Linked DNA regions of Homo sapiens: region 2 is linked to region 1. A link means that fine-mapping ties the variant in region 1 to the expression of a gene that starts in the linked region. Tissue or cell type: cerebellar hemisphere. Region 1 holds a variant in brackets; the other region holds the start of a gene. All regions are shown on one strand. Distances are from middle to middle.

Region 1 (8,266 bases):
TGTTTTCTGGTCTTCCCCTGAACTTTGGGTCCTGGAGTGAGTAGACCAGGCTGCGAATTTCCTGAGTCACCTACTAGTTGCATGACCTTGGGGAAATTATTTAGCTTCTCATTTGTAAGCACCCAGCCCACAGGCTGACTGAGAGGACTAAATGGATGATGCAACATGTTTAGCACAAAGCCTGGCATATAGTGAACTGTCAGTGCATGAGAACTATTAAATACCTCACACACCCACCCAGCCACCCATGCCGGGTGCACTGACAGCTCCCTCTCTGCATTTAATCCCTCCAGGAAGCCCTATTAATTCTATCTCCATTTCACTTCAACTCCACTGGCACCGTTTCAGCCGGGGCCAACGCTGTTTCTCCTCGAATTTCTGCATTCACCTCTAACTAGGCTCCTTGTCTCCTCTTTTGTCCCCTTTTAATCCATTCTACATAAGGGGCCTGAGTGATCTTTTAAAAGGAAAATCTAGCTATGTCATGCTCTTGCTTCAAATCCTCAGCAGCATCTCCTTACACCTGGGCAAGAGGTCACAGTCCTCTGTGTGGCCTCCACAGCCTGAAATGATCTGGCCTGCATGATTCTTCCGGCTCTGCACCTCCACTTCCTACCCAGGCTGGGCCCACTGAGCTCTCTTCTGCAGGGCTCTGCCCTGGGGCAGCCTCTGCTTGGGATGCTCTTTTCCAGTCCCCCCTCTGTTCTTAGGTGACTCCCCCTCATGTCTAATTTCTCAGTTGAATTTCTCACTTCATCCTAGTGGCTTTCTATGGCTTCTCCATACCTGTCCAAATTAGGTCCCCCTTGTTATTATTATTTTTTTTAGACAGAGTCTCACTCTGCTGCCCAGGCTGTGGTGCGATCTTGGCTCACTGCAACCTCTGCCTTCTGGGTTCAAGTGATTCTCCTGCCTCAGCCTCCCGAGTAGCTTGGATTACAGGTGCCTGCCACCACGCCCAGCTATTTTTTTTTGTATTTTTAATAGAGACAGGGTTTTGCCATGTTGGCCAGGCTGGTCTCGAACCCCTGACCTCAGGTGATCCACCTGCATCTGCCTCTCAAAGTGCTAGGATTACAGGCGTGAGCCACGGCACCCAGGCCTCCTTGTTATTTTCTATTATAACACTCTTTTTTCTTTACAGCACTAACCATAACTTTATATATTTATTTAATGTTGATATCCTCCCGAGACTATAAGCTCCACGTGAACATGGGCTATGTCTGTTTTGTTCTTTGGTTTAGCTCCAGAACAAGTCAGGCACCAGGCAGGTGGTAGGATCCCAATGAAAAGTCACTGAAAAAAGCATCACAACAAGGCATGGCCTGATGCACGGAGGCAGCAGATAGTGAGGGCTCTGGGAGATAAAGGACGCCACCAGGCTTAGCTGGGAAGTGACCCAGGCAGCCTCTCAGAGGCAGGTGTAGGTACCTTGCTGTATTTCTTCTGGAATAAAGGGCTCTGGATTTAGCCCCAACATCTAGGTTCTCGTCTGAAGGAACCTGGGTGTGATAAAGGAAGTCTGAGAGATGCACTGTTATTGGTATGGCACCAGAAACAAGACCCATTTCATAGATAGAAATGACGGTTTTTACAGCTGAACCAATCCAAAGCACTTCGCTGGGATTGCAACACTTGTTTGGGACAGGATGGTTGGGAAAGTTAACCCAGGGAACCAAATTTGTAGGGAAACGAGGGTAGATTGCAAGTCCACTGTTTTGAGTTTTGCATCCACATAGAAGAGAAGTCTGTAGATTCATTCAATACCCAGTCTCATTTTACTGTTATCTAAGGTGGTTTTTCTTTTTAAAAATATTTATTTTTAACTGTGGCAAAATATACATATTTACCATCATAACCATTTCTAAACGTATAGCTCCGTGGCATCAGGTGCATTCCCACTTTCATGTAACCAGCACTTCTATCCACTTCTAGTACCTTTTCACCTTCCCTAACTAAAACTCTGTACCCGTTAAATTTAACTCCCCTATTCTGCACCCCCTACCCCAGCCCTGGGTAACCACCCTTCTATTTCCTATCTCTATGATTTTGACTACTCTAAGTACTTCATATAAGTGGAATCATACCGTACTTGTCCTTTTGTGACTGGCTTATTTCACTTAGTGTAATGTCCTTGACATTCATCTGTGTTATAGCATGTAACAGGCTTTTCTTCTTTTTGTGAAATTATGCAATAAATAATATTTCATTGCCTATGTGTACCACATTTTGTTTATCCATTTATCCACTGATGGACACTTGGGTTGTTTCCGCCTCTTGGCTGTTGGGAATAACACTGCTGTGAACATGGGTGTGCACATGCCTCTTTGAGACTCTGCTTTTCATTCTTTTACATAGATACCCAGAAGTGGGATTGCTGGATCACATGGCGATTCTATTTTTAACTTTCTGAGAAATCTCCATGTTTTACATAGTGGCTACATCATTTTACAAATTCCCACCAATAGCACACAAGGGTTCCAATTTCCCACATCCTCACCAACACTTAGTATTTTCTTTTCTTTTAGTAGCCATCCTAATGGGTATAAGGTGGTAAGGAGGTTTTTACTTAATGAGCTTGAAAAGGCTGTCACCAATGTAGATTTTATTTATTTATTCTGAAATATTTTACATATTAATTTTTAGACACAGGGTCTTGCTATATTGCCCAGGCTGGAGTGCAGTGGCTATTTGCAGGGTATGATCATAGTTTACTGTAACCTCAAACTCCTGGGCTCAGGCAATCTTCCTGCCTCAGCCTCCCCAACAGCTGAAACTACAGGTGTGCACCACCACACACAGCTAACTTCAATTAGGCTTTTAAATTTTAAAACATTTTTAAAAACATTTTAAGCATAAAGAAAGAATAAGGTCTATAGAGCAAATATCTGTGCACCCACCTCCTAGCTTTGTCCCGTCACAGTATTTGGCAGATGCCATTCTGCCTTCCTTGCCCTGCTGTGTGCTGGCATTCTGAGATATCTTGCGATGGGACAGTTTTCGAGTTATCTAATCCTCCCCTACAATGTTGATCCGTTTTTCACAACCCTGAGCAAGCAGAAATCCTTATTCAGAATCACTAAATGTACCCGTGGAAAGCTGCAGTCAAAACCTGGTTTTTCTATGTTAACCCTGAGTTCCCATTTGTGAGGCCACGATGTTCTCGCCAAAGTCCTCAGGATCACACTCCCTACGGGTGCACAGGCATTTTTGTGCTGCCAAGCTGCATCAAATAGTACTTTGGGACATGTTGAAATAATGGCTTTACACCCAAAATGTGCCCCCCACAAACCTGTTCATGCTCTTCTCCCAAATCTTATAGCCCAGGTCTGCTCCAGAGCTGTTCAGGACATTCCGGTATAGAAGGCAGGCACCAGAGACTCATTCATGCTGACATCTACTGTTTACATCCATTCTTCCAGGCATGGCCTACAGCATCATTACTGCACAATGACATCTAACCTCCGGGACGGGGAGAGGCCTGAGGTATATAGTCTGATTACAGTTGAGGCTGCATCAGGTCCCCCCACCCAGAAGGCACATTTTCAACAAGCATCCAAGATGATTCTTACAGTTCCATGACCCAGGCTTTGACACACAGTCCTCTAAGTATTATGACCACAGCCTAGATCTTTTCCCCTGTACCCTTCCTGCCTTTTGGTTCTTAAAGCAACCAAGCTTTTCATAAAATTGTAACATTAAAATAAATAGAAAATATTTAAAATAAACCTATCTAGCAGTTTCCTCACAGCCACCAAGCCAAGCTTCTATTTCCTTTATGTGACTTTGCCTCTCCCCACAATTGGTCCATTTAGCACAGAAGAAACAAACCAATCAGATTTCAATGGAGCATTTTGGGCCTGATCTTTCCAGCTGTTTTTGGGGTGTATCAGAAACGTGCCTGAACTTTGCATCTGTATTGGGACCATTTAATAGGCCATTTCTACCTAAGGCCCATCTCAATTTTCAGGAAGTCATTTTACCTTCGGAAAACCTAGATCACTAACCATACGTCCTCTTTTAAAAATGGCAAATGGTGATAGAGTGTTTGCAAGCTTAATGGCACAGAACAGTGGGATACTGGTGCCTGGAAAAGGAATTTCAGCATTTCCTGACTTGTATTCTATTCAGGAAGGATGAACAGCTTGAGTGAACTCAAAGACATTTGTTTTCACCCTTTATAAAACGTGCTTGAAACCAGGCACAAAGAGACACAGCAGATTCCCACTGATGTCTCTCAGGCAGCCTGACCTTTTAACCTTATGAAATATAGGGCCTGTTTATTAGGGTCAGGTGGAAAATGGATGGATTGTTTATTGGCTTTGGAAAACAATTCAAGTAAAATGTGACCTTACTAACAAAATGTGATCGTGCCCATTGTTTTACCAGGATGCTCTGGAAAATAAGATTAATCATCACGGCCTTTGGTGATCCTCTCAGATTCTCTGTGTAAGAAAATAGTCATCTGCAACGTTAATGAGAAGATGCCAAACACCAAAACATTCAACTTAATGTCAGTGTTTCAGGCTTACTCGGGCAATCTTCTAGTTGTTACCAGCCTTTTCAGTAAGTCCACACAGTGGAGTCTATGGAGTATAAAAGCTCCACATACAGATGCCCAAATATGACTGCTAAGAAATCTACTTTTTTTATAAGCTACAACTTTAAAACATGTAGAAATAG[C/G]AAGCTGCCAAATGTGGCAGTTTGAAAGGGAATAAACAGTACATCAATAGTACAATATGTTTTTAGAGGCAAAGGGCAGCAGAAAATATTCTCTTGTATAGAGTTTCTACATAGTCCATCTCTAAGAGACCCTAAAATGGGCTTTCTGATTGCCTTTGAGTACTCTTAGGTTTCAACTGTTTTTCTTATAAACTCTTACTCTTAATTGGTTTCCATGTGACTTCATTATCACCATTATCTTAAAACTCCTGGCTCCTATTAACTCTTCTGCTTCTAAAATATAAACCATTATCTCTTTTTATTCCAGTTATACCAATTGCAGTCATTCACTAACTATGCAAGAGCAAGGCAGTAATAAAGGCCTACTATGGGGTATGAGAAATAAGTAAAATAAATATCTAGTGTTTTATCTGATCACACCCTTCCTAAAATTGTCTTCCTTAGAGAGCTGCCGGAATGTCCAGAAAACATCACATGATCATTGTTTCCTAACTTGGGTTAAAACACAATCTCAAAAGCACTTTTAAAAGATCAACATTGGAGAAGTTATTGCCAGAATAGAAGAATAAGTACCTCCCTAAACCTGTTCTTCCATAAAAGCAATGAGAAAACTGGCAAAAATGGCCAAAACAAGTTTTTCAAAATACTGCAAATTCACCAAAGGCTTGTAACAATCCAAGGAGTAAAGTGTTTAGTCAAAGACTATGACTAACCGTCAGGAAGAACGGTGATTTTGTGGCATTTCAACCTGCCCTGCTCCCATCTCCCCTCTCTCCAGCTCCATGGTAGCCTTAGACCTGTGAAAGCCTGAGAACAGCAGCCTAGCAGCCATGAGAGGGGCAGAATAAGCCTAGAGCTCCCCTAAAGCCATCCCCAGAAAACTGCCCTTATTTAACTTGCCTGGCTGTTCCCCAAAATACTCAATTCTTTTTTTGAGATGGAGTCTCCCTCTGTCACCCAAGGGCATGATCTCCACTCACTGCAGCCTCCGCCTCCCAGGTTCAAGCGATTCTCCTGCCTCAGCCTCCTTAGTACCTGGGATTACAGGTGCACACCACCACGCTTAGCTACTTTGTGTATTTTTAGTAGAAACGAGGTTTCACCATGTTGGCCAAACTGGTCTCAGACTCCTGACCATTAAGTGATCCACCTGCCTTGGCCTCCCAAAGGGTTAGGATTACAGGCATGAGCCATTGCATCCAGCCTGAAAAGCTCAATTCTTAGAGCTTGTCTTCATTTGACCTTACTCAGAGAATATTCTGTTCTAACAGCCGTATCTCAAAGGCATTTGTCAAACACTATTAATGGCAATTGTTTAACACAGCAGCGTTTTGAAGTGGTGATACCAGATGGGGCTAACAAGAGGCTGACCAAAAAGCTTAAAAGGAAATACTAGGGAATGAGATGTCCATAAGGGGTTTGTAAAGCTATGACATATTATTGAGAACCAGGAAGGCCACACCCATGTGCACGGCTGTGTGTATGCCCAAGCAAGATCTTAGAAGGATTTAGTCTCTCGCCTCTTGCTGACCTTAAGGCCCATTCCTAGCAGAGAGGTCAGGGTAAGGCAGAGATGTGAACTGTGTGCTAGAGTACTGAAGGTCTGCCCCAACACACACACAGAGCCCCTCAGCAAAGGCTGAAAAACTGACCAGTTCAATGCATGTAAGGAAGTCTCTCTCCCATCATTAGGCAACCACTAGGCTAACTAAGCAGAGACTTCGGGAGCTACAAATGACAAAAAAGGCAGACTTTATAGAATCAGACCAGAAGTCACTAAACAGGCAAACAGCATCATCAGCAACAAAAATCCGAGAGAGGAGGGAATCTGGATATTTAATATTTGAAACATCCAGTTTTCAACAGAAGATGTGAGACATGAAAAGAAACAGGAAAGTTTAGTTCCATGCACACAGGAAATAAAGCAGTCAATAGAAACTGTCCAAGGGGCCCAGATGTTGGATTTAAGTTTTTAAGTCAGCTATTATAAATATGTTCAAATCACTGGAGGAGGTCATGTCTAAAGAATTAGAAGAAAGTGAAAGGATGATGTCTTATCAAATAGGGAACATCAGTAAGTTGGGGCAGTCCAGTCAAGAAGCTGTGGTAACTCTAAGTGGGGTAGGGACAGTGGGATGGGAGAAACAGAATGGAAAGAACCATGCTCAGTAGTCTGTAGGACGTGGTGGATTGGATGGGGGAGCATGGGAAAAAAGAGGGCGAGGTCAAAGCTCAGGTGAGGACACCGTTCGGTGAGGGGACGGTCAGGAGGAGCTCATGTTTGTGGGGAAGATAGTTAACCTTAGATGGTTGTGTTTGAGGTGTTTGCGGGGCATCTAGAAGGAGATGCCAAGTAAGTGGTTAAATGTACAGGTTGGATGGACAGGGATGGGCTGGAGCTATGAAAGGGGAAGCTCCATTAACACCAAACCCTGTTCACAGCAAGCAGCATGAGTAAGACCCTGGCCACAGCAGAGCAGAGAAGTCAACACATGTGAGTTTATCATGCAAAGCAGAGGAAAGTCCATAAGGGGGATGTCCAAGTGCAGAGAACTGGGGGGAAATCTGACCAATGTCAGAAGAATTACACTTGCCAGATTTAGAAGAAAAAAAAATAAAGGAAGTCCAGTGCTATAGTCTGAAGCTTTCCCAAAATTCTTGTGTTGAAACTTAATCACCAACTTGATATGGTATTCAGGGGTGGGGCCTTTAGGAGGTGATTAGGTCCTGAAGGCAGAGCCCTCATAAACAGGATGAGAGACCTTATAAAAGGGTTTGAGGGGACAAGTCCATGCCATGTGAAAACACAGCGTTTGGCCCCTCCAGAGGACAGAGCGGCAGGACATCATCTTGGAAGTGGAGACTGGGCCCTCACCAAACACCAAACCTGCTGGTGCTCTGATCTTGGACTTCCAATCTCGAGAACCACAAGAAACACATTTCTGTTGTTTATAAGTTACCCCCTCAGTCTGTGGATTTTGTTATGGCAGCAGAAATGGGTAAAGCACCCAGTGAAATTTGAATTTCAGATAAATGACAAATACTTCCTGTAGGACAACTATATTCAAATATCGCATGGACTGCACTGATATTAAAAATTATTTGGCGTTTTGGTGATTTGTGGTTATTTCATTAAAAGGTACATTTATACTATGCAAATTCTACCACAACACTAACTGATTGCCCTAGCCCAGAGGGGTTTTGTAATATTGCATATTGTATAGAGACTCCATCAGATACAGAACCGGGAGAACTGTCTTTCAGTCTAGACTCTTCTGCCTACTAAAAGACAATAATAGACCAATCTTGTGCCCCTCTGGTCCTTAGCGTCCACAGCAGTGAAAACGGAAATATCTTTATCTCCTTTTTGTTTTTGCCACAACCGAGCTGTTGTGAGAATGTGGTCCGAGTGGTGTGTGGGGGGGTCCCATGCAAATATGGTCATAGCACTGCTCATGGGTTATGACCATACGAACAGCAAACCATGAAGCAGAGGCTGGCCGGCATGGGCATTCAAAAATCATGTGAGACACAGGGGAAATGCAAGACACCAGGAAGGCACTAGAAACTCTTCCTACGTGTG
Region 2 (8,000 bases), 670 kb before region 1:
TGCCACACTTCCACAGAAAACAAATGATACAAAGCCTTATCATCTGATTTATCCAGTAAAACATCAAGAATTTACAGCTTGGCCAGGCGCGGTGGCTCATGCCTGTAATCCCAGCACTTTGGGAGGCCGAGGTGGGCGGATCACGAGGTGAGGAGATCGAGACCATCCTGGCTAATATGGTGAAACCCCCTCTCTATTAAAAATACAAAAAATTAGTCGGGCGTGGTGGCACAGACCTACAGTCCCAGCTACTTGGGAGGCTGAGGCAGGAAAATCACTTGGACCTGGGAGGCGGAGGTTGCAGTGAGCTGAGATTGAGTCACTGCACTCCAGCCTGGGGGACACAGTGAGACTCCGTCTCAAAAAAAAAAAAAAAGGAATTTACAGCTTGAGTCAACTTTCCAGGAACAATATTATATAAGCTGAACTACACTTATATTTGTATTAAATGAATAGGATATCAAGTAAATTTTATTTTACATCCTTAATTTGTTCTCATTCTTATGGAAAGATTTCAGTCTTAATGGCTTCTGAAGTAAAAATTTTAGGCAGTAGTTTTGCTTCTCTACCTTGTTGTAGAATGGCATCTCCCAAATGTACATTTGATGACACACAAAGGTTGAGGGGCAGGGGGGGAGTTCAAAATGTGGTTGCATGGATTGGTGGGTAAAACAGGGGCTAGGGTTTTTAAAGGAATATACACCATTAAAATAAACAAAAGACATAATTTTCCACAGAAGTCACCAAAGAATCAAAATATGTAGGCCGATAAGTGTATGACTTTAGCGCCTTTTATTTTTCCTGATCACTTTACACAATTATAAAATGGATAGAAAAAGTTTTATCTTTTGTTAGGTTTCTTTGCTTAAAGATTCAGCAGCAAAAATGCAAGATTTTAGGGTTTTTTTTTTTTTTTTGAGATGGAGTCTTGCTCTGTCGCCAGACTGGAGTGCAGTGGTGCAATCTTGGCTCACTGCAGCCTCCACCTCCCAGGTTCAAGCGATTCTCCTGCTTCAGGCTACCGAGCAGCTGGGACTACAGGTGTGCACCACTAGGTCCAGCAAATTTTTGTATTTTTAGTAGAGACGGGGTTTCCCCATGTTGGCCAAGGTGGTCTTGATCTCTTGATCTCGTGATCTGCCCGCCTCAGCCTCCAAAAGTGCTGGGATTACAGGCGTCAGCCACCACGCCCGGCCAACTTTTTAGTTTCTAACTAGAAGTACGTTTTACTACTGTAGTATTTTTACCATTAACATTAGGTTGTGATATGTTTCATCTGAAAAATTATAACACTTACCTCACAATCAGGGCATATAATTGTGGTGCATTCTTCAGTCATTAACAAGCATAGTTCACAAAAAGCATGTCCACATTGAAGTTCACAATGGTGACCTATTGATGAAATTCTTAATTATTATTTTGATGATGATGATGATTATTGAGACAGGGTCTTGCTCTGTTGCCCAAGCTGGAGTGTAGTGGCACCAGCTCACTGCAGCCTCCACCTCTTGGGCTCAAGTGATCCTCCTACCTCAGCCTCCCAAGTAGCTGGGACTATAGGTGTGTCCCAACACACCCGGCTAATTTTACTGAAGAAATTCTATTGTGATTAAACTGCCCACAGTGTGTTAATGTTGAATGGGCAATACTGATACAAGGGAAATTCAAAGAGGATCCTACTGTACAGGAAAAGATACCTACTACAGTTTGAAATGGTTGACTTATTGAATATAAATCAGGAGTAACCAACTATTCAGGTCAGGAGGGAGAAAAATCAAGAAGAAAAACCAAGAAGAGCTATGTAATAGCATTTGCATTAATTCAGATGGCTATTTTGTACCTAGAATACTTTGAATCTGCCATATCTTACACAAAGTGCTCTGACACATTTTATTTGTTATTTGTAAATATCACAGTTAAGTGGGCTGGAGATGAAATAGCATTTTGGAGATTTGGTTAACTAAATGGTATAATCCAGACTCCTATCTAGCTCTGTTTCCAAGTCTAACATTCTTTCTGATTGATCATACTGCCCTCTACTACTTTATATTTCCCATCCTGTGAAGAGGTCAGGAAGGGCCAAAATGAGACACTGGCAAGACCGTGCTGTTAGAATTATTTAAGACACTGGCAAGGCCAGAAGCCAGATGCTACTATTATCACATATCTACAACTCACATTTTCACAAACTTAGCATTTATGAAAGGAAATATCGTAACTTGATTGAAAACCTAACATCATGATTAAATGCTCTAAGAATTTGAAGTTTATAATAAATAACATTTGTTTTAGCTATATAATTTCAAAAGGTTGTCATTTTTAAAGTTTTGCAAGAAAACTGAAAAGGGAAAAAAACTAGATAAAAATCAGTCATCTTTTACTAGCAAAATAATTATAGAGTTCTTGCTGAATTATAATCGCATTAATTTTATTTATTTATTTATTCATCCATTCATTCACTCATTCTGAGACGGACCACGATCTCGGTTCACTGCCAACTCTGCCTCCTGAGTTCATGCTATTCTCCTGCCTCGGCCTCCGGAGTAGCTGAGATTACAGGTGTGCGTCAGCACGCCTAGCTAATTTTTTTGTATTTTTAGTAGAGATGGGATTTCACCATGTTGCCTAGGCTGGTCTTGATCTCCCGACCTCAAGTGATCCGCCCACCTCGGCCTCCCAAAGTGCTGGGACTATAGGCGTGAGCCACTGTGCCCGGCCTTGCATTAATTGTATTTTTTAAAAACTTTACAAGTTTCCTATCCAACTGAAATACCTGAAACTTGCTTACAACCATGCTAAATTTTAAAACCCTATTTAACTTCCAGGGATAATATTGCCAAAGAAATAAAAACACTTAACTATTATAAAATTTCTGATACTGAATAACTCAAAATAACTTGTGGTGAATTACAGCTTAAAAAGCACTTTCAGGATTCTATATACATAACCACTACTTCTCCAGTTTAGTTTTTCTAAGCATTATAATACTAATGTATGGAAGAAGTACTCATTTTAAAAGGTTGTGTTCTAGAACTTTATTCCGTAATTTTAATTTCATTCAAAAATGGAAATTTTCTACGTAACGGTAGCAGTGATCTAAACCCCAAGTAGGAGAAACTTGGTTCTCCACTGAAATCACAACTTTTTCTGCAGAGGCTCACATCTCACAGAGTCCATCTTGCCAAGACTGAGAAAACTGATCGAATGACCTTAACTTTGAAAGTATAAACATTAAACAGTTACGCCAGGTAATACGAATTTTCAGTAGCTCCAGGAATTGAGATTCAACAACTCAGCTGTATTAAGAGCACACTAAGGTATTTTAAGTTACATTAAAATAACTTGAACCGGCCGGGCGCGGTGGCTCACGCCTGTAATCCCAGCACTTTGGGAGGCCAAGACGGGCGGATCACGAGGTCAGGAGATCGAGACCATCCTGGCTAACACGGTGAAACCCTGTCTCTACTAAATATACAAAAAATTAGCCGGGCGTGGTGGCGGGCGCCTGTAGTCCCAGCTACTCCAGAGGCTGAGACAGGAGAATGGCGTGAACCTGGGAGGCGGAGCTTGCAGTGAGCCGAGATCGCGCCACTGCACTCCAGCCTGGGCTACAGAGCGAGACTCCAACTCAAAGAAAAAAATAATAATAAATAACTTGAACCTGTGATCACTTGAGTAGATTGTAGGTGAACAGACCAATAATAGTGCAGTGTATTTTTCCCCTCACGTATAAAGACCAACACACACACACACACACACACACACACACACACACCCCACAAGGTGCACAAAAGAAACTATCATTTTCCAAACAGTGTTTTAGGCCAGTGTGAGCCATAATGTAAAAAACAAACAAAAAAACCCCCACAGAAACAACAAAATGCTAACAACAACAACAAAATCCAAAACCATTTCACAATGGTCTACTTGTTACTCCTACAACAAAAACTACAGGAGAAAATCAAGTTTCGTTCCTTCTTGATGACAAAACAATGGGCTACATTTTATGTCTACTTTTGCATGCACCCGCTAACCTGCCTTGTGAGGAGTAGATTAAAGCCACCCGGGCCCCCATCCTCCCGGCTGGAGGGTCGGTGAGGCCTGGATGGGTAATTGGAGAAAGCCGTGACAGGCGCAGGTGCTGCCCTTAACCAACCCAAGCACTGCCCTCTTAGAGGTCGGGTGCAGCTCGCGGGAGGCCTGTGACGCAGTTTCTGGTGACACCAGGATTGGATGCAGCTGACCAAGCCTCACGCGCCCACCAGCTCACCTGGCCCCCAGCGCTCCCTCCAGGCTGCCTCCCCGCTAGGTGGGCCCTTGGGCTCCTCACCGGATGATCTGGATACCCTCCTTCCACACCTGGTGCACTGGATTTCAGCGGCACCCCAGGGCTGACTCTTCCTCCCCATTCGCTGGTAGGAAGACCTAGAAGGCCCAGTCTTCGAAGCCTCTGCCGCCATCGCTGTCTCTTTCTTCTGGAACAACCGCCGAGTGCGAGTCCCGGCGGCCCTCGCGGCAGCGACCAATCATTGGAGGCCAGCCCCTGCAGATAGCCAAACAGTGGGCCGGGAGATTAAAGCCCGCCCCCAAGCTCGCTCCTGATGGGGCTGGGGCTGTTTTCCGTTATCCTGGGAGGTACCACTCCTAGAAGGGGCGCCTTGTGGCCGTTGAGGACCGTTCGTTTTTACGTTCTACCCAAAGAGTCACCACTTTAGTGCTTTTAGTCATCACAAATTAAAATTTCGCATATTATTACTTACATTGTGAGTGACTTTATAGATAATCATTTGGATTGAAACAATCCCCTTTCCCTATTACGTGTCAGGGCCAGAAGCCCTAAACCTGTGTGCTTCGGGCATCCAGGGCTTGGCCAATAGCAGCTGGAGTGGAGAAGCTAATGAGAAGCTATCGTTGGGGTAGATTCAGTGAACGCTTTCGAATTAAGGAGTGTTCATCATTACTAACTGCTGTTGAGCCTAATAATATACAAGGCAGCGTGCCAAGAGTGGTTGGGGATGCTAAGAATTTATGAACTAGCAGGTTTCTGCTTGAGAGATACATAACTCCTTAAAAAAACCCAGTAACTTCCGCCAAAATAAGTGTTATGTACCGGACCTGTGTTAGAGACAGTAAGAATTAGCCTTCTGGGCCCGGCGCGGTGGCTCACGCCTGTAATGCCAGCACTTTGGGAGGCCAGGGCGGGCAGATCACGAGGTCAGGAGATCGAGACCATCCTGGCTAACATGGTGAAACCCTGTCTCTACTAAAAATACAAAAAAAAAAAAAAAAAAAAATTAGCCGGACGTGGCGGTGGGCGCCTGTAGTTCCAGCTACTTGGGAGGCTGAGGCAGGAGAATGGCGTGAACCTGGGAGGCGGAGCTTGCAGTGAGCCGAGATCATACCACTGCACTCCAGTCTGGGCGACAGAGCGAGACTGCGTCTCAAAAAAAAAAAAAAAAGAGTTGAAGCAACTTGTCCAAGCATAGTTCACAAAAAGCAATGAAGAAATGAAGTCAATATGGTCTACGGTGGTATGAAAACTCTTCGTAGAGGATATAGGGTTTGCACTAGACCTTACAACCTAGGTAGTACTTACAGGAGTAAACAAGAACTAAGGGATTCCAAGAATAAAGAACACATCAGCGAGGGAAGGTAGATGTGAGGGAAGGTAGATGGAAGACACAGTGACTTCTTGAGAATTTAAAGACCATTTAGCCAGAGTATGAGTTTCCTTAAAGTAAGCTTCTTTGGAGAGGTGTGTCAGGGAAGAATTTCGGAGAATCTCGAGTGTAAGGCTGAGGAGTTTGGACTTTACTCTTTAAGCAGTAGAGTGCATGAGACGTTTTGTGAGCAAGGAATGAAGTAATCTAGTAGAAAGGTGGCAGGTGTATTTCAAACAAAACACCTGGAGGTGGCACGGTTGCCTTTTGCTGCTAAGAATAAAGCCTGCCCATATTCCTCATTTTCTTTTCTCTCTACACTGTGTGTGGGTAACTAGAAACTGTGAAGTAAGTATTCTCTTGAAAGGCTCACTTCGGCTCAAAAATCTTTGTAATTTGTTGTCTTCGAGAGAAAAGTACTGCTTCCCTAAATTACCCTCATTCTACTACTCATCCAATAGTTTCCACTACTAATCCATGATGGAACTGAGTACTAATCAAGCCAATATTCTCATGTAACATGTTGACTCTTCTACAGTTTTGTGAGTATTATTCCCTATTCCCCTCATCTGGAATACCTACTGTTCACTCTTCATCAATTCATATTCTCTTTTTTTTTTTTTTTTTTTTTTTTAGAAATGGAGTCTTGCTCTGTCGCCCAGGCTGGAGTGCAATGGCGAGATCTCAGCTCACTGCAACCTTGGTCTCCGGGTTCAAGCAATTCTCCTGTCTCAGCCTCCCCAGTAACTGGGACTACAGGCGCATGCCACCACGCCCAGCTGATTTTTTGTATTTTAGTATTGACTGGGTTTCACTGTGTTGCACAGGCTGCTCTCAAACTCCTGAGCTCAGGCAGTCTGCCCGCCTTAGGCCTCCCAAAGTGCTAGGATTACAGGCGTGAGCCACCGCGTCCGGCCCATATTCTCCTTATCCTTCCTGGATCAGCTTTAGAAGCACTTTCTCCTTTAAACCTTCACATTTCTCTCCACACTTAATGCTATTCTAGCATGTAGCAAGCCTCTTTTTCCTCTAGGATAGCTGTACTGTAATTTGAATAATGACAATCTCATTGCATAGGTGTTCATCGTGGGCCATAATGTGGATATTTAATGTGGGTCTTGAGTTTCATCAGAGATGCCTTTGGTAATCCCAGAAATTGAATTAATCTTGGATAAATCAGGGCCAGTGAGAAATACACTGATAGATGATTATACCACATTTGTTCATTTCTTAGCACTTACCAAGAACCCTCAAATAGAGCAGCCAGAAATGTCTTCTTAACATTCAATTTAGGTTGTTTAAATCCTTTGTTTGGAACCCTTTAATGGCTTCCTATGAATTACAACAAAACCTTAATGGCCTTGGAGGTTTGCCCTCTGCCTGCCTCTCTACCAGTGCCTTTCTAGTGCTCTAAAATCATCTCCTAAACAGCTGAGAAATGAGATAAACAGGGCTCCCTTCTTGAATACACAATTTTTATAAATTGCATCTGACCCACAGTGAATGTCTTTTAGAAAGTTTCACCAAAACTAAAGAGAAATTCAGAGATCAAATAGCAGCAGCAGATCAGAGAAAGAATGTAGAACTATGCAGTCACAGAGCTAACCTGCAGGCTGCCCTTAGCCCTGTGCACCTGAAATCAAATCCATGGTCAAAGTTAGGTTTCTTTGTTGTTGTTAAGCATATAACATATTTATTCCCAACATAAGAGTGGGATTAATAGAATAACACCAAGCCAAAATATTAATATTCTAAAACCAAATTATTGAATAGAAACATATAACATATTTATTCCCACCATAAGAGTGGGATTAATAGAATAACACCAAGCCAGAATTTTAATATTCTAAAACCAAATTAATCTATTGAATAGACGTATTTCAACATTTAACTAAGTTAACCCATTCAGTTACCTTCTCGAAAATATACACAACAAATAATTTATACTGTTTCCCATAATGGCTGTACTAATTTACATTCCCACTAACTGTATAAGGGTTCCCTTTTCTCCATATCCTTGCCAACAGTTGTTATCTTTTGTCTTTTTTTTTAAATAATCTCCATTCTAATACCGTCTGTAATTTCTCATTGTGGTTTTAATTTGCATTTCCCTGATGATTAGTGACATTGAGCATGCTTTCATATACCTATTAGCCATTTGTATGTCATCTTTTGAGAAATGTCTATTTAGGTCCTTTGCTCACTTTCTGTTTGAGTTGTTTTCTTCCTACTGAGTTGTTTATGTTCCTTATGTATTTTGGATATTAACCCCTTACCAGATGTATAGTTTGCAAATATTTTCTCCCATTCCATAGGCTCTTTACTTTGCTGACTGTTTCC

The links. PIP is the estimated chance that this variant, and not a neighbour inherited with it, causes the effect.
Region 2: it holds the start of RNF17, and the variant in region 1 is fine-mapped to the expression of RNF17 in cerebellar hemisphere (GTEx, PIP above 0.99).

What each region holds. Positions count from the first base shown.
Region 1 is chr13:24,089,150-24,097,415 of GRCh38, reverse strand. It overlaps a transcript of SPATA13 not described here. Among named protein-coding and RNA genes, the nearest start is that of SPATA13, 67 kb to the left of the region's middle. The variant C/G (reference allele first, on the strand shown) is at 4,684.
Region 2 is chr13:24,760,664-24,768,663 of GRCh38, reverse strand. It overlaps RNF17 (ring finger protein 17), which reads right to left and starts at 4,495. Exons shown (of 36, transcript NM_031277.3): 1 at 4,331-4,495; 2 at 1,298-1,392. The coding sequence starts at 4,460.